Regions from separate parts of the Homo sapiens genome. Here region 1 is linked to region 2. The links come from fine-mapping of genetic effects on gene expression. A gene starts in region 2. The other region holds a variant in brackets. All regions are shown on one strand. Distances are between the middles of the regions.

What was found.
Region 1: its variant is fine-mapped to the expression of ING5 in thyroid (GTEx, PIP 0.92).

The regions. Positions count from the first base shown.
Region 1 is chr2:241,719,688-241,731,880 of GRCh38, forward strand. It overlaps ING5 (inhibitor of growth family member 5), which reads left to right. Exons shown (of 8, transcript NM_032329.6): 6 at 3,252-3,387; 7 at 3,523-3,584; 8 at 5,302-9,791. The coding sequence ends at 5,344. Among named protein-coding and RNA genes, the nearest start is that of D2HGDH, 8.8 kb to the right of the region's middle. The variant T/C (reference allele first, on the strand shown) is at 5,877.
Region 2 is chr2:241,697,480-241,709,027 of GRCh38, forward strand. ING5 (inhibitor of growth family member 5) reads left to right here and starts at 4,560. Exons shown (of 8, transcript NM_032329.6): 1 at 4,560-4,623; 2 at 7,174-7,245. The coding sequence starts at 4,587. RefSeq lists silencers at 3,854-4,673, 4,416-4,579, 4,764-5,323 and enhancers at 3,978-4,810, 5,049-5,678.

The DNA of each region.
Region 1 (12,193 bases), 23 kb after region 2:
CGGGGCTTCCTCCCTGAGGGCTCTGCCCAGCTTCAGAGACCTCAGGAACAGCCAGCACCTCTGCAAACACAGGAAGATCCACTGTGGCCTCATGGCTTTTCCTGTCCTGACAGTGCGCTGACCAGCACTGTTTAGTAGCAATGCGGAGCCTGGGAGCTCAGCGCTGCCTGCCGTGCAGGTCCCAGTAGTGACAGATGAGAAGGGTGATCACCGATGGCGACAGTTGCGGGGCCCTGCGGCTCTGGATCTAGCTTGTGTGTGAATCTCTTTCTTCTCTGTGCCCCCAAGTGGCAGTGCTGCTCCTGTCCCATTGCAAGACGTCGAGACAGGCTGGTAAGGCCAGCTCTGAAGCTGGGCTCTGACGTCCAAGGCGCCAAGGAGGCCCCTTCCAGAGGGACAGGAGGATGGTGCAGGTGGGCAGACGGGTCATCCTGAGGACCAGTCGGTTGGACCCAAAGCCTGGCCTGCCGGGGCGGGAGTGTGCACTCGGGTGCCTCCAAGGGCATCATCCTGGGTGTGTGCAGGAGCCCGCCTGCCCCTGGGCTCTGGAGTTCTGTGGTGCGCGTCCCTGACCCATCAGCACAGTGGGTATTCACGCCCCTCGTGGTCACGCTGTGGTGCCAGGCCGCTCTGCCTCAAGGCAGGTCCTGTTCCCTGCTGGGGACCCAGGCGCACGCACCATCCTGTCCCTGTGGACTGCCCTCTTCAGGCCTGTTCCCCACGTGCCCGGGGCTCTTCCTGGAATGCAGTGTTCCTAGACTGCACAGATGCTCCGTGTCTCGTCTGAGATCCCGTGACCTGAGGCTGCCCCCTGCACTGTTGCTGCCCTGTGGCCTTGCTCTGGCGAGGCAGAACCTGTGTGTGTGGATGAAGGGCAGTGTCACCTGTAGCACCTGGAATCCCGGGGCTTGGACAGGCAGCCAGCCCCCTGCTAGGAGCCACGTGGAGTGCTGGGAAGCCATCGGGGCCGGGCGCGGAAGGGCTCGCTGGCACCGTCTGGCGAGGGGTGCCTGCCACACCCTGGGGAGTTAGCACAGAGGGTGCCTCTTGTGGCAGTGGTGCTGAAGGGAGTCAGCAGCCGCTGACAGTTGGGGTCACCCTGGCCTGTGCAAGGGACAGGGCTCCCCATGGCCTCCTGGTTGCCTCCCTCAGGGCTGATAGCAGCACTCCCTGGCCACACGCCATGGCGCTCCCTCAGGCGAGACTGAGAGGCCAGTGAGGCCTGCACGGTGGCCTCAGCTTCTGGGGTGCCCTTGCTGGGCGGTCCCCTCAGGCCCCCGGCCCTCTCCCACAGCCATCAAATCTGGCCAGCGCCCTCGAACCTGGTGATGCTGAGACACAGGTCAAGTGGCAGCTCAAGATGTCAGGTCGGGCTTTGTGGACAGAATTGGACTCGGCGCAGAAGAGGAGGGCGTCAGCGTTTCGGGGACGGTTGGCAGCAGAGGGTGCTGCCCTGCTCTCCGCGGGTGAGAGGTGACTCGAGGAGACCGCAGGAGCCCCTTGGAGGTGAAGCCACAGGTGGCATCCCGGAATCGGCAGGAGGCTGAGACGTAGACCCTTGCGTGCTGCTGTCAGAGGAGAGACCCGAAGACTACTTGAGACTGTTGCTTGAAAGCAGTGTCGGCAGCACCTGGACCTGGACTTGTGACGCTGATGGATTTCAGCTCTAAAGAGAAACCCCTGTCTATTCCCAGACAGAGAGAAAGAGCAGAAGAGCAGATTACCTGCAAAGGACAGACTTAGGTGGGCGCCCCTGTGCCAGAGGGCAGCGGGGAGGCCGGGTGCATGCTGAGCCCGAGTGTGTGTGTATGTGTACAGGCAATTGCAAAGGCGTAGAAAAGCTTTAGACAGGTATCCAAGGAAAAGCTGAGTGTTGATTCCCTCTGGGACCCAGACTTCTGCTCCTTGGCTTTCCCTGATCGTGACTGTTTTTCTCACGGCCACGTTCCTCCTGCTAACCTGCTGTGTTTACATACCAACTAGATATTCGTGGGTTGGAGGGTGGGATAGGGAAGATACTTTTTCTTTCTGTACTAATGGGAATACACTGTCTATAGTACCTGCAGCTTGTAAGTTTATTTGAAAAATACTGAAATATAAAAGCGTAAATTTCCCCCTAAGTGCATCCCTTTCAAACAGGAAAGTCTCCACCTGAGGTCTGTGGTCCTGGTGGGACGGCCATGGTGCTACAGGTGGCAGGCTTGGAGGGAGGCATAGACGGGGTGGAACACCTGCCAGGCTGCTGTGTAGAAACCCACGTGGGAGCTGATGGGGATGAAGGAGTGACAAGGATGGTGTGTGGTCGGAAGGGGCCCTGTGCCAGGTGGACAGCTGGGTGGGTGGTGGGCGGTCCAGGGAGTGTGTGGGGAGCTGCTGGTTGAGTCAGTATTGGGGCAGAGGTGCCTGAGTAGGTGCGTGGAGGGCCCGGGCGCAGGACGCATGGCTGTTCTCTTGGGAGGAGGTCACAGTTACGGGAGAGCTGTTGACTGTGCGGGCTGCTCTGACACCTGTCAGTCTGGAGTGGGAGGCTGGCAGGCTTCTCTCAGGTGTCAGCCGTCTGCTGGCAGAGGTGACGTGTGCTTGTTTCCAAAGGGGCCGGGGTCTTTGGAGGGATGGCCCAGAAGTGGGTTGAGTCCAGAGGTCCCCGGGGGAGTCCTGTCTGGGAGGAGGGACCGAGATGAGAGTGGACTCGTCCCCAGAGTGGGACCAGAACCCCGGTGCTGTGGGTGAGTGCTGCGCTTCACGGCCTCCTGGGGGCCCTCTGTGCCCCCATGCCCCTGCCTGGGCCCGAAGGTGGGCGCGAGGTCTCCACCCCTCTGCTGCCAGCTGCTGCTGTTCCTGGATTTTTGTGGGTAACTGTTCTTTCTAGCATCAGCTGACAATCTGTTCGTATACTTAATGATTTTCTTGCTGCGCCTTCTTAGAACATTGCGTGTTCAGAGGGGTTATTGAGGTTTTGAAAATGTGTGCTCCAGGAAGAAAACGTCCACAAGGTGTGTATTCAGTTAGTGCATGACTGCAGTGGCTGGCCCTGGAGTCGCATTCATTTCTAAAGGACAATGGGAAAAATGGAAGCAAGCTTATTCATTATGTGTCGCTCAGAGCACGGTACCAATTTCCCCCTTGGAATGATTGTCTTCACAGTTTTGGGGTGAGGGGGCCTTAAGTCAGAGACAGAAGGGCCCGTGGTGTCCGTGCCGCCTCACTTCCCACCATGGCCTTCAGTGGTGCCTGTGCCCTGTCCCCTGCAGGTCTGAGTTCACTGACACCATCCTGTCCGTGCACCCCTCTGATGTGCTGGACATGCCCGTGGACCCAAACGAACCCACGTACTGCCTGTGCCACCAGGTCTCCTATGGGGAGATGATTGGCTGTGACAATCCAGACGTGAGTGTCGCCTGCAGGATTCGCGCCATGGGGCGGGGTCTTGTGTGGGGCAGGGCTGGCGGATGTTGGCATTTCTTGTGTTTTGCATACAGAACATGAGGCGTGTTGACTGCGGTTTCTCCCTTTACTTTGCAGTGTCCAATTGAGTGGTTTCACTTTGCCTGCGTGGACCTTACCACGAAACCCAAAGGAAAATGGTGAGTGTGGGGACGCTCGCTCTGTTTTCTCCCAGTCTGCTGGGTGTTGCGCTGCTGGCCTCCCCAGGAGAAGGTGCTCCATGGCAGAATCTTGCCGGGCTTAGCGGGACACGGTAGCCACGTAGGCATGCCCCACTGTGGCCTCAAGGAGTGTGGCTGGCTGGTGGCTGCTCTGGGTGTGGCTTTATCCCCCCTTTGCTGCTGTGCCTGTCCGAGCTGGCAGAGGGATGCCGTCACCCAGGAATGGTGGTTACCAGGTTACGTGATATTCACGTTAATGGCCCCTCCTGAAGGACAACCTTCCGGACTCTGGGAGGTAGGGATCGTCTTAAATCAGAAATGAGAGGTTCTTGTCCCCTAGGGAAATTTGGGAAATATAGCATGAGATGTGAGCCCTGAAGCCGGGGCATGGATCTGGGGCTCTGCCCCTGGCTCTGTCTAGTGGAGAAGGGTGTGTTTTCTCTACCTGACCCTTGCATCCCCTTGGCAATGGCAACTTTCTGCATTGTTGTTCCTCAGATTTCATTTAAATAAAAACCTGTAGTCTGGGCAACATCGGGAGACCCCAACTCTACAAAAAATACAAAAATTAGCTGGGCGTGGTGGTGCGTGCCTGTGGTCCCAACTACCTGGGAGGCGGAGGCGGGAGGATGGCTTGAGCCTGGAAGTCCGAGGCTTCAGTGAGCTGAGATCGCGCCACTGCACTCCAGCCTGGGCGAGAGAGCAAGACCCTGTCTCAAATAAATAAATAAAAAGATAAAAACCTGGCTTTGTTTGCCTGTGCTGAAAATCTAAAAATGGATATCTATGTTCTGAAAATGAAATCGGAATGTGCTCTTCTGTGTGGCACTCAGAGGTCATCGTGGCAGCGTGTTTGAAACTCCGGCAGACTCGCCCGAGTTGGTAAGAGCCAGTTATCCTTGGTGTTCGGTGTGAGGACACAGGGAAAGGATGCCGTGTCTCGGAGGCTGGCCGAGCTCACGGTGTCATGTGGCGTCAACACAGGCTGTCCTGTCACAGGGACACATGGCACTGTGGTGCCCCACGCCGTGCGGCTGGGGGATGGTGCACCGAGGGTTTTGAGAAGGGGTACGGAGGCTGTTAGGGCGGAGGGCCCTGGGCAGGCTTGGGCCTGGGCCAGGCGGTGGTTGACGGTTGCCGTCATGCGAGTCGGCTGCCTCCTGCGTGGGGAACCTATGGAATGTCCTCTGTGGTCAGCAGCTGCCTCTGTTCAGGAGCCCCTTGTGCGTGCAGCTCCAGAACTTGCTCAGAGTCACCAGGGAGCACTTGTGAGACGGCAGCTTCCAGGGCCAGTGCAGGGTGCCTGGCTGGGTTTCCGTGGGCCTGAGGGGCTGCCATGCTCTCAACGCGTGCTTGGTACCTGCAGCCCCCACAGACTGCAGACAGAGGGCACCAGCGACCCTGCCATCGGCCGGGGAAGAAGGACCCACCTGTTAAGGAGGAACGCCTGGGTGTCAAATCGGTTTTGCTCATTGATGGTGTATCTGTCAGCTTCAGAACCGGCGTCCTGCATAGAGCCGCACGTGCATCGGCGCATTTTCCCTGCGGGAGGGCCGCGGCCCCACTGCGTGTGCCTCTCCTGGTGCCCTCCTGCCGGCGTCCAGCAGCCCTGGGAGACATGGGGAGGCGGGCCCTGGGCACCCTGCGCGCTGGCGGAAATGGCGCCCAGGGCCTCACTGCGCCTTTCTTGTCACAGGTTCTGTCCACGGTGTGTCCAGGAAAAGAGGAAGAAGAAGTAGGAGGAGCTGTGTGCCCGGATCCGAGGAGCAAGTTAATCTGTCCCTTCATTCGTGTCGCAATATTTCCCTTCCTTTTAAAACTACCTTGTTCGGTTGATACTTAGTAACTCCGTGGCCAGTTGAAGCGCTGGATGTTTCCTAGAACAAGAACCACCAAAGCCTGTTCGCACAGAAGGGCGACCTTGCAGGGACTCGCCGCCGCGACCTCAGTGTGGCTTTTACAGGACTCCCCCCGAGCATCAGCAGGGACCCCGGCGGACGTGGGCGGGCGCGCGTGAGCTCGGGCTGCCCGGCCGGGCGTGCGGGCGGGGACATGGTAACCTGGTCCACGGAGGGCGGCCGCCACCCTCGCGTAGCTTTCCTGTGGTTTTCCAGGACTGTCCGGTACAGCCCGGGCTCCGCGTGCCCCGCCCGCTGGAGCACCTGCCACCGAGGCGCGCGTGGGGCCACTGCCGTGGCGGCGGCTGCCCTCCTCACACTCGGCTCCGCGCCGCCTCCGGCCACCGTGCGCTCCCGCGTGGGGCGCCTCGGA[T/C]GGGCCCGGGAGGGCTGGGGGCTCTTCCCTGGAGGAAGCGGCCTCCGCTTCGCTGGCGCCGCCTTTTTAGCTTGGACTTCAGTCCTCCCTCGGGGACTCACCTCCGGAGTAAACGGCTCTTCATTAGCTTGGAGTGGCCGCAGGTCCCGTGACCAGCACCCGCGAGACCCTGTGCGACAGCTGGGCTGATGCTCCGTTTCTCTGGGAATTGGTGATTTTTTACTGTGAAGATGAAATTACCCTAATAGCATGAAGATCGTGGGTCTGTGTGTCCGTGAAGTGAGTCCCGTCTGCCAGGAGCTGACGAACCACGAATGCTTCTGCCTGTGCTGTGCATTCCCAGGCCCGCAGCTCCCGGTCGAGGGGACTCCGATGTGAATTTGTTGTGAATTTGTTGTGCCACAATAGCAGTTCTGGAATGAAGCTAGGAAACTCGAGTGTGCTTTTTGTTTAATGAGCGTTCACCAAGCTGAGCCGGAGCCATCCTTTCGGTGGTAGTTGGGGAAGGCTATGCAGATTTGCTCTGTTGTGACGCGTTGGTGACGGTGCCCAGCCTGCGGTTCCCCACAGCATCGCAGGCGCTCGGAAATCCTCTCCCGTGCCTTTAGAGGAAGGAGAGGATTGCTGAGGAATGCAGGGACGCCTGTTTCTGTCCTCACACCACAGAAAGAAACCTGAGGGAAAACTGAGACGTGAGGTTCCTGATTTAAGAAGCCTGGGTTTCTTCATGGTGGGGGGCCATTTGGAATGACAGCCTCACTTCCTTCTGATGGCTACATCTGTATCTTTTCCTCCTGTGTTTAATGTTTCACTAGGGAGAGGAAATAAAGCAGAAGGAACGTGTGAAGCTCTGTGTCTCAGACGGGGCCCTCCCGTCGAGAAGCTGGTAGTCAGTGAGTGAGAACAAGAGAACAAGAACACCCTGAACAGTCCTGGTTGGGATGGTGTCCACATTCATGTTCTGCGGTTCTTGAACACACGGATGCCTCTGGGCCACCTGTCCTTTTCCGAGGGTGTGGGTGGGAGTGGATCCTCCGGGCGCAGGTGCCAGGCAGGTGCAGGCGGGCGGTCGGCCACTGCTGCTGCTCGTCCCTGCCAGTGTCTGGGCCTGAAGGGGCTCCCTCCAAGCGGTGCCTTCCTGCGGCTTAGAAGGGAAAGCGCCAGAGAGGGCAGGCTACAGTGCTTCACACCCTTCGCCACGGCTGTGAAACTGGAGATGGGTGGGTTTTGTATGTTAATTTTTTTTTTTGAGACGGAGTCTTGCTCTGTCACCCAGGCTGGAGAGCAGTGGCGTGATCTCGGCTCACTGCAAGCTCCGCCTCCCGGGTTCACGCCATTCTCCTGCCTCAGCCCCCCCGAGTAGCTGGGACTACAGGCGCCCGCCACCACGCCTGGCTAATTTTTTATATTTTTAGTAGAGACAGGGTTTCACCATGTTAACCAGGATGGTCTCGATCTCCTGACCTCACGATTTGCCCGCCTCGGCTTCCCAGAGTGCTGGGATTACAGGCGTGAGCCACCGCGCCTGGCCACCCAGCTAAGTTTGTATTTTTGTTGGAGACGGGGTTTCACCATATTGGCCAGACTGGTCTCAAACTCCTGGGGTCAAATGATCCGCCTGCGTCGGCTTCCCAGAGTGCTGGGATTACAGGTGTCAGCCACTGCGCTCAGCTGGGAGATGAATTTTCATTTAATGACTTAACTTTTTGTTAGCACAGGTTTTGTGTGTGTGTGTGTGTGTGTGTTTTGTTTTTTGTTTTGTGTTTTTGAAACGGAGTTTTGCTCTGTCACCCAGGCTGGAATGCAATGGCACCATCTTGGCTCACTGCAACCTCTGCTTCCTGGGTTCAAGTGATTCTCTTGCCTTAGCCTCCCGAGCAGCTGGGATTATAGGCGTCCACCACCACGCCCAGCTAATTTTTGTATTTTTAGTAGAAATGGGGTTTCACCATGTGTGGCCAGGCTGGTCTCGAACTCCTGACCTGAAGTGATCCACCCGCCTCGACCTCCCAAAGTGCTGGGATGACAGGCATGAGCCACCGCACCCGGCCAACACAGATGTTTATTGATCGTGGAGGATACATTGTGGAAAATGTTTTTCTCTCTTTTACCATTTTTGGGAAGAGGGATAGGTAAGTGCAGGGAGTTTGTGCTGAAACAGCGCCTGGCAATTTTTCAGAAATGAATTTGATATTGCGCTCCACCTTTGAGCTGTTCACACCTGTGGCTACCCCTGGAAAGCGCTGGGGTTGTTGATGCTTTTGGCTGCCCGGCTTCCTGAGGTCTCGCTGCTTTTTGGGGAAAGATGACTGGCTTCCCTGTGGGACGCTTTTGTCTGACACGTGATGATGTGGTCCTGCCTGCCACTGTGCACCATCCCAGGTATTGAATTTTGACCTTTTCTTTTCAAGTTTCTGTGCTTAGTGTTTTTAATGTTTACTTTTGCCACTTACAATAATATCACCAAAATAATATGCATAGAGTTTTGGAAGAAACATAGAAAACATGAGCAGAATGAGACAATTCCTTGGGCTGTAGTTTGGACCCAACTGAATCCTGAGTGCTCTGTGGCTGACGCTGTCTACCCGTGGGAGAGACACACTCAGGAGTGGCCGTTTGGCCAGAAAAGAAGGTCATGGCCCCTGGCCTGGCCCCCGCCCTGCAGGGACACAGAAGCCACACCATTTGCACCATCCACGCCTTGCTCCAGAAGGCCTGGCCGCCTTCTCCCTGGGGGTGATTCAAGGATTTGGTCTCGGACCAGACCCCCCTCCACAGCTGCCCGGCCCCAGACCCATCTCTTGGATTGAGGGTGTGTGGGCTGGAACCAGTGGGTCACTGTGGCAGCTTCATCTGAGCCGAAGGTGTGGGTCCTCTGTGGCTGTGCGATTGACCTCGATGGGAAGGAGCGTTCTACCCATTTTCCTTGTTTTCAGTGCTGCGGTATCAGTCAGTGATCTGAGGAAATCCTGTAGGGGAAGGCAGGCTGCAGTGAAAACAGGAGCTGGTGAAACCGAGCCCTCTGCATCTGCGAATGTGCCCTAGGTGCTGCTGCTGGGGACATGGATGCCAAGCGGAGGCCTGCGTGGCCTCCTGAGCAGCAGCTGACCGCCCGTCTCATGCTGGACGGGACCCCTGGGCGGGTGGACATGAGACCACTGTTGGCCAGGGACGCCGTGCGGAGGCCTACGTGGCTGCCTGAGCAGCAGCTGACCGCCCGTCTCACTGTTGGCCAGGGCTTTGTGGCGTGGGTGTTTTCCAGTCTGCCTGGAGCAGCGAGAAGCAGCTGTGCAGACTGGTGGCGGTGGGAGGGTTTGCTGGGACTGATGGGGACACCGGCCAGCTTGTCTGGTGTCCAGCAGCCCTGCCGGACTTGGCCTCCTGTCCTGTCGTTGGGAGCCCTGGCTGGGGCTGCTTTGAGCAATGACGCTGGCCCAGAGCAGCTTCCCACATGACCCCAGAGCCGAGGGTCTGCCCTGTCCTAGGTTAGGTCTTCATGGTTTAGAGTAAAACCGTGAGGGATGTTAATTATGGGCATTGAAGACTTAAGGTTTTCTTAAATTTTTAGTGAGCAGTGATTGGCCTTCAATACTTGTGCTGAGAGGAATTTTAAGCCAGGGGAAGTGTAAGAAAATGTTCCCATTCAGGAGAGATTGTGTTGGAGTTTCTTTCTTCCTCTGTATGTATTTTGTGGTGTCCACCTTTAACCACGTTTCATCCAAAACGATGATGCAGCTTTAACATGAATGTTACATTTTTATTTTCAAGGAATTATTATCTATGTTCCCTTTGTAAAGGAAAGATAATGTTGTAAATCTTTTTATTAGATAATGTAAAGATGTATATCAGTATTTTTGGATCATGTTATAGATTATGGATATATTGTTTAATAAATAAAGTATTTTTTGGAACAAACAATTGAAAGTGCATCTGTATTAGCCCGTTTTCACGCTGCTGATAAAGACATACCCGAGATTGGGTAATTTGTAAAGAAAAAGAGGTTTTTTTTAAAAAAAATTTTCTTTTCTCTTTTTTTGAGACGGAGTCTTGCTCTGTCACCCAGGCTGGAGTGCAATGGCACTGCATGATTTCGGCTCACTGTAACATCTGCCTCCCGGGTTCAGGTGATTCTCCTGCCTCAGCCTCCTGAGTAGCTGGGACTACAGGCACGTGCCACCACGCCCTGCTAATTTTTGTATTTTTAGTAGAGATGGGGTTTTGCCATGTTGGCCAAGCTGGTCTTGAACTCCTGACCTCAGGTGATCTGCCTGCCTCAGCCTCCCAAAGTGTTGGGATTACAGGCGTGAGCCACCGCACCTGACAGAAAAAGAGGTCTGGTGGACCCTCAGTTCCACATGGCTGGGGAGGCCTCACAATCATGGCGGGAGACGAAAGGCTTATCTTACATGGCAGCAGACAATAGAAAATGAGAGCCAAGTGAAAGGGGTTTCCCCTTAAAAAAACCATCAGATCTCGTGAGACTTATTCACTACCACGAGAAAAGTATGGGGGAACCACCCCCAAGACTCAGCATCATTTTGGGAAACAGGTGTAAAATGTCAGTGTTGTGCCCAGAGACAGGTGTGTGAAATTGAATTCTGAAGGGGTATGCAGTGATTGGAGAGTGGTTTGCGGAGCTTGCTGGCTGGGGGTCTGGGGAGGACCCTGTGCCTTACCTTGGGTGGTTGCTCAGGAAGCTCAGTGGCCAGTGCTGGGGCTCAAGTTGACTTCCAAGGAAGACGTGTGAGAATGCTGCAGTTGCTTTCTTTTTTTTTTGTTTGAGACGGAGTCTCACTCTGTTGCCCAGGCTGGAGTGCAGTGGTGCAATCTCTGCTCACTGCAAGCTCCGCCTCCCAGGTTCACGCCATTCTCCTGCCTGTGTCCCGAGTAGCTGGGACTACAGGCGCCCACCACCATGCCCGGCTAATTGTTTGTATTTTTAGTAGTGACAGGGTTTCACCGTGTTAGCCAGGATGGTCTCGATCTCCTGACCTCGTGATCCGCCTGCCTCGGCCTCCCAAAGTGCTGGGATTACAGGCGTGAGCCACCACGCCCGGCCGCTGCAGTTGCTTTCTAAAGGAGTACTGTGCTTGCTCTGGAAGGGCAAGACTTACCGTGTTGCACTTGCCTTTTGGAAGCTGCTGGAGTCAGCTTAGGCTCTGTATTAGTCCATTCTTGTATTGCTATAAAGAACGACCTGAGACTGTGTAATTTATAAAGAAATGAGGTTTAATTGACTCACAGTTCTGCAGGCTGTACAGGAAGCGTGGTGCGGAGGCCTCAGGAAACTTACATCATGGCAGAAGGCGGAGGGGAAGCAAGCACGTTTTACCACGGCAGACCAGGAGAGAAAGGGAGCAAAGGGGAAAGGTGCCACACTTTTAAACAAGCAGGTCTCCTGAGAGTTCACTTACCTCCACAAGAACAGCAAGGGGAAATCTGCGCCCATGAGCCAGTCACCTCCTACCAGGCCCCTCCCCCAACATTGGGGATTATGGGCGGGGACACAAATCCAAACCATATCAGGCTGTTATCACAATACCACAGACTGGGAGGCTTAAGAAAAATGTCTTATATTTCTGGAGATTGGAAGTCCAAGATTAAGGCGCTGGGGTTGTCTGGTGCCTGTCCAGGGCTCTTCCCTTGGGTTGTGAACACTGCCTTCTCATGTGTGCCTACGAAACTGACTGGGAGAGGGAGCTCTCTGGTGTCTCTTATTTTACGGATGCCTGTCCTGTCGGATCAGGACCCCACCCTTGTGACTGACTTTAACCTTAATTACTTCTTCAGAAGTTCCATCTCCAAATACGGCCATATTGGGGGTTACAGCTTCTGCATACGAATTCTGGGGGACACAAACATAACAGGAGCTGATGGGTCTCAAGATGTTGCCTTGAGGAGTGCATTAACAGAACCCGGGAAGAGCTTGGTCATCACGAGGTACAGTCGGCCTCTCACCCACCGTCCAGGTGAAAACCAATCCGTAGACTGGAGTCCTCGCTGGAAGAGGAGGCTGAGATGCTGGGGGAAGGCCCCACAACGCCGAAACCAGCACCTGCCATCTCGCTGGAAGAGGAGGCTGAGATGCTGGGGGAAGGCCTCACAATGCGGAAACCAGCACCTGCCATCTCGCTGGAAGAGGAGGCTGAGATGCTGGGTGAGGGCCCCACAACGCTGAAACCAGCACATGCCGTATTTTCCTCCAAGCATTCTCTGAGGGTACATGTGGGCTTTGCTAGGGTGACTATGCCCTGGGAAAAAGAAAAATCAGTTGTTATTATTTTCTGAGACAGTTTTTTTTTTTTTTTTTTGAGACA
Region 2 (11,548 bases):
GGACGTTGGAATATTTTTCAAATTAAACATGAACTAGCTATTAAGCCACGGAAAGGCACGCTGGGACCTTAAATGCATATTGCTGAGTGAAAGAAGCCATTCTGAAAAGGCTCATACTGTATGATTCCAATTACATGACATTCTGGAAAAAGCAAACTGGAAACAGTAAAATGATCAGTGGTTGCCAGGGGCCTCGGGAGGGGGAGAGGGATGAATCGGGAAGCGCAGGGGATTTTTAGGGCCACAAAACTATGCTGTATGACATGTAATGGGGGGTAGCTGACATTATACATTTGTCAAAACCTATAAGAATGCACAAGGCACTGGGCGTGGTGGCTCACGCCCGTAATCCCAACACTTTGGAAGGCTGATGCCAGTGGATCACCTAAGTTTAGGAGTTTGAAACCAGCCTGGCCAACAGGGTGAAACCCCATCTCTGCTTAAAATACAAAACTTAGCCAGGCGTGGTGGTGCCTGCCTGTAATCCCAGCTACTTGGGAGGCTGAGGCAGGAGAATGGCTGGAACCCAGAAGGCGGAGGTTGTAGTAAGCCAAGATTGCACCATTGCACTCCATCCTGGGCGAAGAAGCCAGGCTCCATCTCAAAAAAAAAAAAAAAAAAGCACAAGGCAGAATGAACCCTTATGGAAATAATGATGGACTTTGGTTAATAATAATGTATCGGGCCCGCCGTGGTGGCTCACGCCTGTAATCCCAGCACTTTGGGAGGCCAAGGCAGGAGGATCATGAGGTCAGGTGATCAAGACCATCCTGGCTAACACGGTGAAACCCCCGTCTCTACTGAAAATACAAAAAATTAGCCGGGCATGGTGGCGGGCACCTGTAGTTCCAGCTACTCAGGAGGCTGAGGCGGGAGAATGGCGTGGATCCGGGAGGTGGAGCTTGCAGTGAGCCGAGCCCAGCTAATTTGAGGTCTCAAAAAAAAAAAAAGTATCAATATTGTTTCATCGATTGTAACAAATGTATCACATTAATGCAAAATGTTTATAATAGAGGAGTGTGTGTGTGTGTGTGTGTGTGTGTGTGTGTGTGTGTGTGTGGAGGAGTATATGAGAAGTCTACTTTCTCTTCAACTTTTCAATAAACCTAAAACTGATGGAAAAATAGTCTATAATTAAATGAGGCCAGTAAGGATGCACTCAAACTGCTAACATTAGGACTGAAAGCTGAACAAGGCAATCACAGTCCTGCCCCCTGGGGAGGTGGGAAGCTAAAAGTTCCTGTATTGTTTAATTTTTTTGTTTTTGAGACAGAGTCTTGCTCTTGTTGCCCAGGCTGGAATGCAATGGCATGATTTTGGCTCACCGCAGCCTCTGCCTCCTGGGTTCAAGTGATTCTCCTGCCTCACCTTCCCAAGTAGCTGGGATTACAGGCAGCTACCACCACAACCAGCTACTTTTGTATTTTTAATAGAGATGGGGTTTCTCTGTATTGGTCAGGCTGGTCTCGAACTCCCGACCTCAGGTGATCCACCCACCTTGGCCTCCCAAAGTGCTGGGATTACAGGCGTGAGCCACCACCCCAGCTGAATTTTTTTTTGGGGGGGGAGGGGTTTGCTCTTGTAGCCCAGGCTGGAGTGCAATGGCATGACCTCAGCTGACTGCATCCTCTGCCTCCTAGGTTCAAATGATTCTCCTGCCTCAGGCTCCCGAGCAGCTGAGATTGCAGGCCCATGCCCACCACGCCTGGCTAATTTTGTATTTTTAGTAGAGACTGGGTTTCTCCATGTTGGTCAGGCTGGTCTCAAACTCCTGACCTCAGGTGATCCACCCACCTCATCCTTCCAAAGTGCTGGGATTACAGGCGTGAGCCACCATGCCTGGCCTGAATTTTTATAATGAACATAATAGTGGCAAAAACATTGTTTCTGGTTTTCAATATTTGACTGGGGTTTAGGGAAGAGTCCACCAAGGGGGACATAGCTTGTTTTTTTAGGTGGGGGTCTCCGTCACCCAGGCAAGAGTACAGTGGTTTGATCATGGCTCACTGCAGCCTAGACCTCCTGGGCTCAAGCCATCCTCCCGCCTCAGCCTCTCATGGTGATCATACGGATTTGAGTCACAGCAGCTGGCTTAATATCTTTAAAAATGCATTTTAAATAATGAAAGTACTGCTCCTTTGATCAGCTTATGCTAATTTGTGTGACCAGCAACGTTGCATCTCGGAAGTCAAGGATGTGGCTGGGGGTGGGGCGGGGGGTTCTGGGGCCTACACGTTACATCTAGTGGTCATCAGTTCTTGGGGCTCGGGGAGCCTTTGGGACGTCCTCTTGAGATCACAGGGAGTGGAGACAGGACTGGGAAGTGACACACCTCACCCATGAAAGACCTGCCAGAGATGAGTTTGATCCCCAGCTTGGGGGCGTCCAGTGGTGAAGTGGGAAGAGGAGTGACATGGGTACTGGTGAGCACTGCATGATGATGCTACACAGTTTGGAGGCAGAGAAGAATCACCCCAAAGACTAATATTTAAACACTTTAAATTATTTTATTTTATATTTTAAGATGGAGTCTCGCTCTGTCACCCAGGCTGGAGTGCAGTGGCACGATCTCGGCTCACTGCAACCTCCACGTACCAGGTTCAAGTGATTCTCCTTCCTCAGCCTCCTGGGTAGCTGGGATTACAGGCACCAGCCATTATGCCCGGCTAAGTTTTTTTTTTTTTTTTTTTTTTTTGGGACGGAGTGTTGCTCTGTCGCCCAGGCTGGAGTGCAATGGCACGATCTCGGCTCACCGCAAGCTCAGCCTCCCGGGTTCACGCCATTCTCCTGCCTCGGCCGCCCGAGTAGCTGGGATTACAGGCGCCCGCCACCATGCCCAGCTAATTTTTTTGTAGTTTTAGTAGAGATGGGGTTTCACCGTGTTAGGCAGGATGGTCTCAATCTCCTGACCTCGTGATCCTCCCGCCTTGGCCTCCCAAAGTGCTGGAATTACAGGAGTGAGCCACCGCGCCTGCCCTATTTTATTTTATTTTTGAGATGGAATCTTGCTCTGCTGGCCAGGCTGGAGTGCAGTGGTGCAATCTCGGCTCACTGCAACCTCCGCCTCCCAAGCTCAAGCGATTCTCCTGTTTCAGCCTCCCGAGTATCTGGGATTACAGGTACTTGCCACCATGCCCGGCTAGTTTTTGTATTATTATTATTTTGAGACGGAGTCTTGCTCTTGTCACCCAAGCTGCAGTGCAGTTACATGATCTCTTCTCACTGCAACCTCCCTCTCCCAAGTTCAAGTAATTTTCCTGCCTCAGTCTCCGAGTAGCTGGGAGTACAGGCGCCCGCCACCACGCCCGGGTAATTTTTGTATTTTTAGTAGAGACATGATTTCGCCACGTTGGCCAGGCTGGTCTCAAATTCCTGCCCTCAAGTGATCCGCCCGCCTCGGCCTCCCAAAGTGTTGGGATTACAGGCGTGAGCCACCGTGCCGAGTCTGAAACATATTTTAATTATGTTTCTCCAGTATTTTTTTTTTCTTAAAATTTTCTTTTTTTTTTTTGAAGACAGAGTCTTGCTCTGTCGCCCAGGCTGGAGTGCAGACGCGATCTCAGCTCACTACAACCTCCGCCTCCCGGGCTCAGCCTCCGGAGTAGCTGGGACTACAGGCGTGCGCCACCACGCTTGGCTAATTTTTTTTTTTTTTTGTATTTTTAGTAGAGTCGGGGTTTCAACACGTTGGCCAGGCTGGTCTCAAATTCCTGCCCTCAAGTGATCCGCCCGCCTCGGCCTCCCAAAGTGATGGGATTACAGGCGTGCGCCAGCGCGCCGGCCTTCTCCAGTATTTTTGCATGCATCTTACGGCACACCTTTGCACGCCATCTTATTAACTATATCATACTGCCGCACGTGCCTTTTCGGCCAAGGCATCCAGATGGTGCGGGTCCTGCCTGCCTCGAGAGGTGGCAGCAAAGGAGCCAGTGCCCTCACTGGTGCTGGGCGGGGCGGCCGCTTTCCTCGGAGGGAAGGGGCGGCGTTGGCGGGGGAAGGGCGCCAGGGCCCAGGCCCTGAGGGAGGGGCAGCTCGCCCGGGCCACGCGGTGCCGGCCCTCGGCTCAGGCCGGGCTGAGGCCCCGGGGGCTCGGGGTCCGGGGGAAAGGCGCTGAGCCAGACAGGTCCCAAGGAGCCTTCGGGAAGGGAGGGCCTCGTGGCGGCCTGTCCGGGACCCGGCCGGGAGCAGGGGTCGCGTGGGCGCCGTCAGGACGGGCGTGAGGTCCCCGGGACCACGTGTTTGCGTTTGGTGGCCCAGGGGTCGCTGACAGGTGCGGAGGGGAGACGCCCACCTGGGTGCCCTGGGCCGCACGCCGGGCGGTGGGGCCGGGAACCCCTGCTCCTCCTCGGCCTCCGATCCGCTGCGGCCCTGGGTCCTGCTCGCTGCCCGACGCCGCTGCCACAACCTCCGCCCGGGCCCCGCAGCCCGCCGCCCGCCGGAAGCTGAAAGGCGTGTCCGACCCCGCCCCCGGGCGCGACCAATCAGCGCGCGCGACTCATGAATAGTGAGCGCGCTGGCACCGCCCCGCCCCCGCCTCCCGCGGCACCGCCCGCCCGCGCAGACCCCGAGCGCGGCCGCGGACGAAGATGGCGACCGCCATGTACTTGGAGCACTATCTGGACAGTAAGCGCGCCCCACGGGCCCCGCGCCCGCCGCCCACGCGGAGTCCTCCGTGCCGCAGCCCCCCGCGCGCCGGGCACCGCATGCAGACCCCGTGGGCTCGGGAGGGCGGCGGGCGCGGCCGGGCGCGACGGGGGGCGCGCGGACGGGGCGGGGCAGGGCCGCAAGGGAGGGGAGGGCGCGGGGGGCGGGCGCGGGGGGTCCCGCCGGCTGGGTCGCGCCAATTCCAGGTGCGTCACGGCGGGGCGGGGCCTGGCGATGCTGGGCGGGGCTTGCGGCCTCGACCCCGCCCACATATTAGGTCCCGCCCCTACCCAGGCCCCGCCTCATCTCCGCCCCCAGCTCCGGCCCCGGCCCCGCCAGGTCCCGCCCGTCCCTGTCCCGTCTGCAGGAGGAGCTGGCGCCCGCTGCGGGGCTCCGGGCCTTGGGGGCTCCGGGGTCTGGGCCTCCGCCTGGCTGTGCGCCCGTGTGCGCCGGCCTCTTGTGTGACCGCGGCTGGGGAGGGCGTGCGGGCCGCGGGGCGTCTCTCCCCGGCACTGGGGACTGCGGCGCGGAGGCGGGGAGGGCGGTGCCGAGTCGGCCCTGGTGGGCGGGCTGTGCTGTTTCCAGGTGGCAGCAGGTCGGCGCCCCCAGCGGCTGAGCGGACGGTGCTTTCCCTCACTTTACACACCAGGGAAGGTCCAGCGCTGCCGAGCAGCCTGCTCAGGGTCTCCCGCTCGTAGAGGGGCAGACCCCACGCGGGACCCCTGACGTCGGCCCGGGATGGGCACAGCTTTGGGGTCGCGGTGTTTGGGGTTGTGCCGGGTGGCTCTGGAGGGCCCTTGTGGGGGCGCTGCACTGGGGATCCTCATGGTCTTCGGCCTGGCACCCGCCCAGGGGCTGAGACAGTGGCGAGTGAGCCGTGGCCTGGAGCTGGAGACCGCTGCCCTAGAGGGACGCCCGATTCTGCCCATGTGCTCCGCTGTCTCTTGGGGGTCTGAGTAGTGGGGGGTTCCCTGGGTAGAAGAGTCAAGCTGGGGAGCACGCTGGAGGGGAGGCCTTCTCTATCCTGGTGCCCAGCCAGTGGGCTGGCCTCCCAAGGAGGGTTGACTTTGTGTGTGTCTGGGAGGCTGTGCCAGCCGGGAGGCTGTGCCTCTGTCCTCTAGGGGAGCTGGGAAAACACTGGGGCTGGAAGCATCAGATGCATAAGATAGAGTTAGGTTTAAAATGATTGCCTGGTAACTGTGAACAGCAGATGGGAGGGTGGCCAAGACTGGAGGAGGCAGCCCCCCTTAGGAGCCTGTGTCAGCTGTGCAGGGGGCGGAGGTTGGCCTGGTCTAGGGGGTAACAAAGCAGACGCGAAAGCAGCACGGGGGTCCTCCTGGCAGACTGTGGGGAATGGTTGCGCTAGCCACAGGGACTATTTAAGTAAAATTAAAAATTGAATGGCGTTAGTCCCATTTCCAGTGCTCAGTAGCTCCCTATGGCCACCACTGTCTTGGGCAGCTCAGAGAGAACATTTCTTTTCTTTTTCTTTTTTTGATTTTTTTTGAAATGGAGTCTCACCCTGTTGCCCAGGTTGGAGGGTATGATCTCAGCACACTGCAACCTCCACCTCCCAGGTTCAAGCAATTCTCATGCCCTAGCCTCTCGAGTAGCTGGGACTGTAGCTGTGCACCACCACGCCTGGATAATTTTTGTATTTTTAGTAGAGACAGGGTTTCACCATGTTGGCCAGGCTGGTCTTGAACTCCTGACCTCAACTGATTTGCCTGTCTTGATCTCCCAAAGTGCTGGGATTACAGGTATGAGCCACCACGCCCATCCGAGAGAGGAAACATTTCTATCCTTGCATAAAGTCGCGTGGGCAGCGTGGCTACACTGCTCAATGCACTGGATTTCTGGGTAAAGTAGGGGAAGATCAAGGAGGACCCAGGGGATTTTGGCTTGAGCCTTGGAAGATGCTGCTCACTGAGGGGGGGCAGCCTAGAGGGTGGGGTCAGTTGGCCTCCCCTGCCTGTGCTGTTGGTTTCCAAGTTTCCCTCTCCCTTCTTTGACTTCTGACAGCTTCCGAAGTGTGCACACAGCCTCTTGTCAGCACTGTTTGGTACCTGCATCTAAAAATGAGATCACAGTCCTTCCGCTCCGCAAACCCTGACAGAGACAGAATACAGAGTGGGCTTGTAGACTTGAAGTATAAAACTTTTGGCCAGTCCTGGTGGCTCACACCTGTAATCCCAGCACTTTGAGAGGCCGAGGTGGGCGGATCACCTGAGGTCAGGAGTTCGAGACAAGCCTGGCCAACCTTGTGAAACCCCGTCTCAACTAAAAATACAAAAACTAGCCGGGCATGGTGGCATGTGCCTGTAATCCCAGCTACTCAGGAGGCGGAGGCGTGAGAATCACTTGAACCTGGGAGGTGTAGGTTGCAGTGAGCCAAGATCGCACCACTGCACTCCAGCCTGGGCAACAAGAGTGAAACTCCATCTCAAAAAAAAAAGACAGAAAACCTTTGGAGGTGAATTTTTGTCTTGCTGCTGAGAGGTACATGGCTTCTGTGTTTTTGCGTTTCAGGTATCGAGAACCTTCCCTGCGAACTTCAGAGGAACTTCCAGCTGATGCGAGAGCTGGACCAGAGGACGGAAGGTGGGTTCAGACCTCTCCATACAACCAGAACTGAGTTCTGACAGGTGGGAGCCAGCAGCTCCTGAAGGCTGGGGGCAGAGGGTTTTGAGGGGACCCAGGTTAGTGGGGCATTGGCCTAGCCCTGGGCCGTGGGTATCACTCAGTGTCTTGCAGTAGGTGTTGATACTTTTGAAGCCACATTGTTTCTTGGGTTCTTACACATCTTTATATCATGTTTTTATAACCATCACCCTTTCCAATCAAAATATTTATTGCCAATTTTTTCTTTTAAATATTTTCAATTTTCAAAGTGTGTAGTGCGTGCATTGTTTTAAAAGTTTGGTAGTACTTTTTGGCCGTTTGATATTTAACTCCGTTTCTTTTTTTTTGAGACGGAGTCTTGCTTTGTCGCCCAGTCCGGAGTGCAGTGACGTGATCTCAGCTCACTGCAAGCTCTGCCTCCTGGGTTCACACCATTCTCTTGCCTCAGCCTCCTGAGTAGCTGGGACTACAGGTGCCCGCCACCACGCCTGGCTAATTTTTTTTTTGTATTTTTAGTAGAGACGGGGTTTCACCGTGTTAGCCAGGATGGTCTTGATCTCCTCACCTCATGATCTGCCCGCCTCAGCCTCCCAAAGTGCTGGGATTACAAGCGTGAGCCACCTCGCCTGGCCCTAACTCTGTTTTTTTCTTTTTTTTTTTTTTTTTTTTTGAGACAGAGTCTCACTCTGTTGCCCAGGCTAGAGTGCAGTGGCACGATCTTGGCTCACTGCAACCTCCACCTCCCGGGTTCAAGTGATTCTCCTGCCTCAGCCTCCCGAGTAGCTGGGACTACAGTCACATGCCACCACACCCAGCTAATTTTTTGTATTTTTAGTAGAGACAGGGTTTCACCATGTTCACCATGTTAGCCAGGATGGTCTTGATCTACTGACCTCATGATCCGCCTGCCTAGGCCTCCCAAAGTGCTGGGATTACAGGCATGAGCCACCGCGCCCGGCCCTTAAACTCCCTGTTTCTAAACAACATGTTTTTGTTGCTGTTTCTTATTTTATCTCTCGTCAGTTTTAGACGTTGTTCAGACGTATATGGCACAGGCAGCTGTACTTCTCCAGTGGCCCCCACACCCTCACATGCCCTCACCTGGCTCCCCCATCTCCTGGCTGTAGGTTGTTAGAATTTGTGGTGAGACCAGTGATGGGACTTCCATTGGGCAGCTGTGTAGGTACTTTAACACTGAGCCATGCCACCTGCTGTGCTTATATGACCTCTTTGGAATAACTTTGTGTATTTCTTAGAGTTACTCATGGCCCTGTTTGTTGGCTTTGTTTTCTGCATTCGACCCTTGTCTCCCCAGCTGGGCTTTTCCTTGTGGTCTGTCAGGCTGTCTACCCTGACAGTTCTGTGTGTGCTTTCTTTCCGCAGAGCCCTCTGTCCTGGAGGCCACAGTCCTGATTGTTTCCATGCCAACTGCACACTTGTTGCCCTGAGGTTTTCCTGGGATCTCCTTTCACCCCTCTTCAGTGTGGGACCCTCTTCCCTGAATCTTAAATGTCTTCTTTTTGCCCTTGCTCTCCTGTTTTGATAGAGCCTTTCCTTTGGTAGGTTCCTGAAAAAAAGGCACATAGGAAGGTAGATTTTCTTGGCCAGGCACGGTGGCTCATGCCTGTAATCCCAGCACTTTGGGAGGCTGAGGTGGGCAGATCACCTGAGGTCAGGAGTTCGAGACCAGCCTGATCGACATGGAGAAACCCCGTCTCTACTAAAAATACAAAATTAGCCGGGTGTGGTGGCGCACGCCTATAATCCCAGCTAATTGGGAGGCTGAGGCAGGAGAATCACTTGAACCTGGAGGCGGAGGTTGCACCTGGAGATCGCACCATTGCACTCCACCCTGGGCAACAAGAGCGAAACTCCATCTCAAAAAAAAAAAAAAAAAAGAAAAAAAGGAAGGTAGATTTTCTTGTAACATTGCATGTCTGAAAATGTGTTTGTTCTAGCCTCATACTCAGCTGATAGTTTGGTTGGGTATAGAATCCTAGGTTGACAATTGTTTTCACTCAGGAAGTTGGCGACATTGCTGCCTTGTCTCCTAGCTTCCACGTTGCTGCAGAAAATCTGGTGCCGTTTGGATTCTTGGTCCTTTATATGTGTGATCTATTTTTTTTTTGTTATTCCTATTCAGAAGCTTTTGAGATGTTTCCTTTATCTCTGAAGTTTTAAATTTCATGATAATGTGTTTTGGTGTGGCAATTTTTTTTTTTTTTTTTTTTGAGATGGAGTTTCACTCTTGTTGCCCAGGCTGGCGTGCGATGGCGCGATCTTGGCTCAACACAACCTCTGCCTCCCAGGTTCAAGTGATTCTCCTGCCTCAGCCTCCCGAGTAGCTGGGATTACAGGCATGCACCATCATGCCCAGCTAATTTTGTATTTTTAATAGAGATGGGGTTTCTCCATGTTGATCAGGTTGGTCTCAAACTCTCAACCTCAGGTGATCTGCCCGCCTTGGCCTCCCAAAGTGCTGGTATTACAGGTGTGAGCCACTGTGCCTGGCCTGAGATTTTTTATTCATTATGCTGGGCACAGGTTTGTTTTTTTTGTTTTGAGATGGAGTTTCGCTCTTGTTGTCCAGGCTGGAGTGCAATGGCACGATCTCAGCTCACCGCAACCTCCGCCTCCCGGGTTCAAGCAATTCTCCTGCCTCAGCCTCCCGAGTAGCTGGGATTACAGGCATGCGCCACCACACCCTGCTAATTTTTTGTATTTTAAGTAGAGACGGGGTTTCTCCATGTTGGTCAGGCTGGTCTTGAACTCCTGACCTCAGGTTCATCCACCCGCCTTGGCCTCCCAAAGTGCTGGGATTACAGACGTGAGTACCACACCCGGCCTGGGCACATGTTTTGCAAGACTGAGATAGCTGTGTTTTTTTCCTTAGGTACAGCATCTTGACTAGGGAATACAGAGAGTTATTTTATTGTGAAATGTAACATATATTCAGGAAATGAATGTGCAACAATTATAGATTGCTTAACAAATATTACCAGGTGAACCTCTCTGTTGTCTGCTACCGAGATGGAGAAATCAAGCCCTTTGGCACCTGAAGGCCTTTGTGACCCTCCTAGTCATGACACCCCTCCCCAACCAAGGGGTGACCATCCTGAGTTTGGTGACAGTCACCTTCCACCTTTAACAGTAGTTTTCTTTTTTTTTTCTGAGACGGAGTCTCGCTTTACCATCAGGCTGGAGTGCAGTGGCACGGTCTCGGCTCACTGCAACCTCTGCCTCCTGGGTGCAAGTGATTCTCCTGCCTCAGCCTCCTGAGTAGCTGGGACCATAGGCACGTAACACCATGCCCAGCTAATTGTTGTATTTTTAGAAGAGACGGGGTTTCACCACATTGGCCAGGATGGTTTCCATCTCTTAACCTCGTGATCCTCCTGCCTTGGCCTCCCAAAGTGCTGGGATCACAGGCGTGAGCCGCCGTGCATGGCCTTCAACAGTTTTCTTTTGTTTTTTTTTTTTGAGATGGAGTCTCACTCTTTCGCCCAGGCCGGACTGCAGTGGCGCTATCTTGGCTTTCTTCAAGCCCCGCCTCCTGGGTTCACGCCATTCTCCTGCCTCAGCCTCCCGAGTAGCTGGGACTATAGGCACCCGCCACCACGCCCGGCTAATTTTTTGTATTTTTAGTAGAGACGGGGTTTCATCAAGTTAGCCAGGATGGTCTCGATCTCCTGACCTCGTGATCTGCCCGCCTCGGCCTCCAAAAGTGCTGGGATTACAGGCGTGAGCCACCACGCCTGGCCTAGTTTTCTTACCCCTCTAAACTGAAGGGTTAAGAGTTGTGTCTGTTTCTGCTCTTCATATTAATGGAATCATCCAGTATGTTTTCTTTTGTTTCTTGCTCTTTTTGCTCCGTGTCACCTTCTCTGGGAATCATCCGTGTTGCTGTGTGTGGCTGTAGTTTGCTCTTTTTGTTGCTGAGTAGCACTCTGTTGTCTGAAGGGACCACAGCTTATTTCTCCATTTTACTGAGGATTGGACATTGGGGTTGTTTTCTGTTTTCTGCTCTTATGAATGTTTCCCGTGTGGATTTCTTTAGGTGACATAAGGTTTGTTTAGGGTATTTAAGAGTAGTGTGTTCTTTCTTGACTGCTCTACCGGAAAAAAAGAAAAGGGAAAAAAGAGTAGTATGCCAGGTCATAGGAAAGGTGGCTACAAGTTATTCATACAGGATGTTTGAGAGTCGAAGAAGGCACTGTGACCACTTGCTGTGTAACATTCAGAGCTGGGACTGTCCTGGGCACGTTGCCGTAAAGTCTGCACA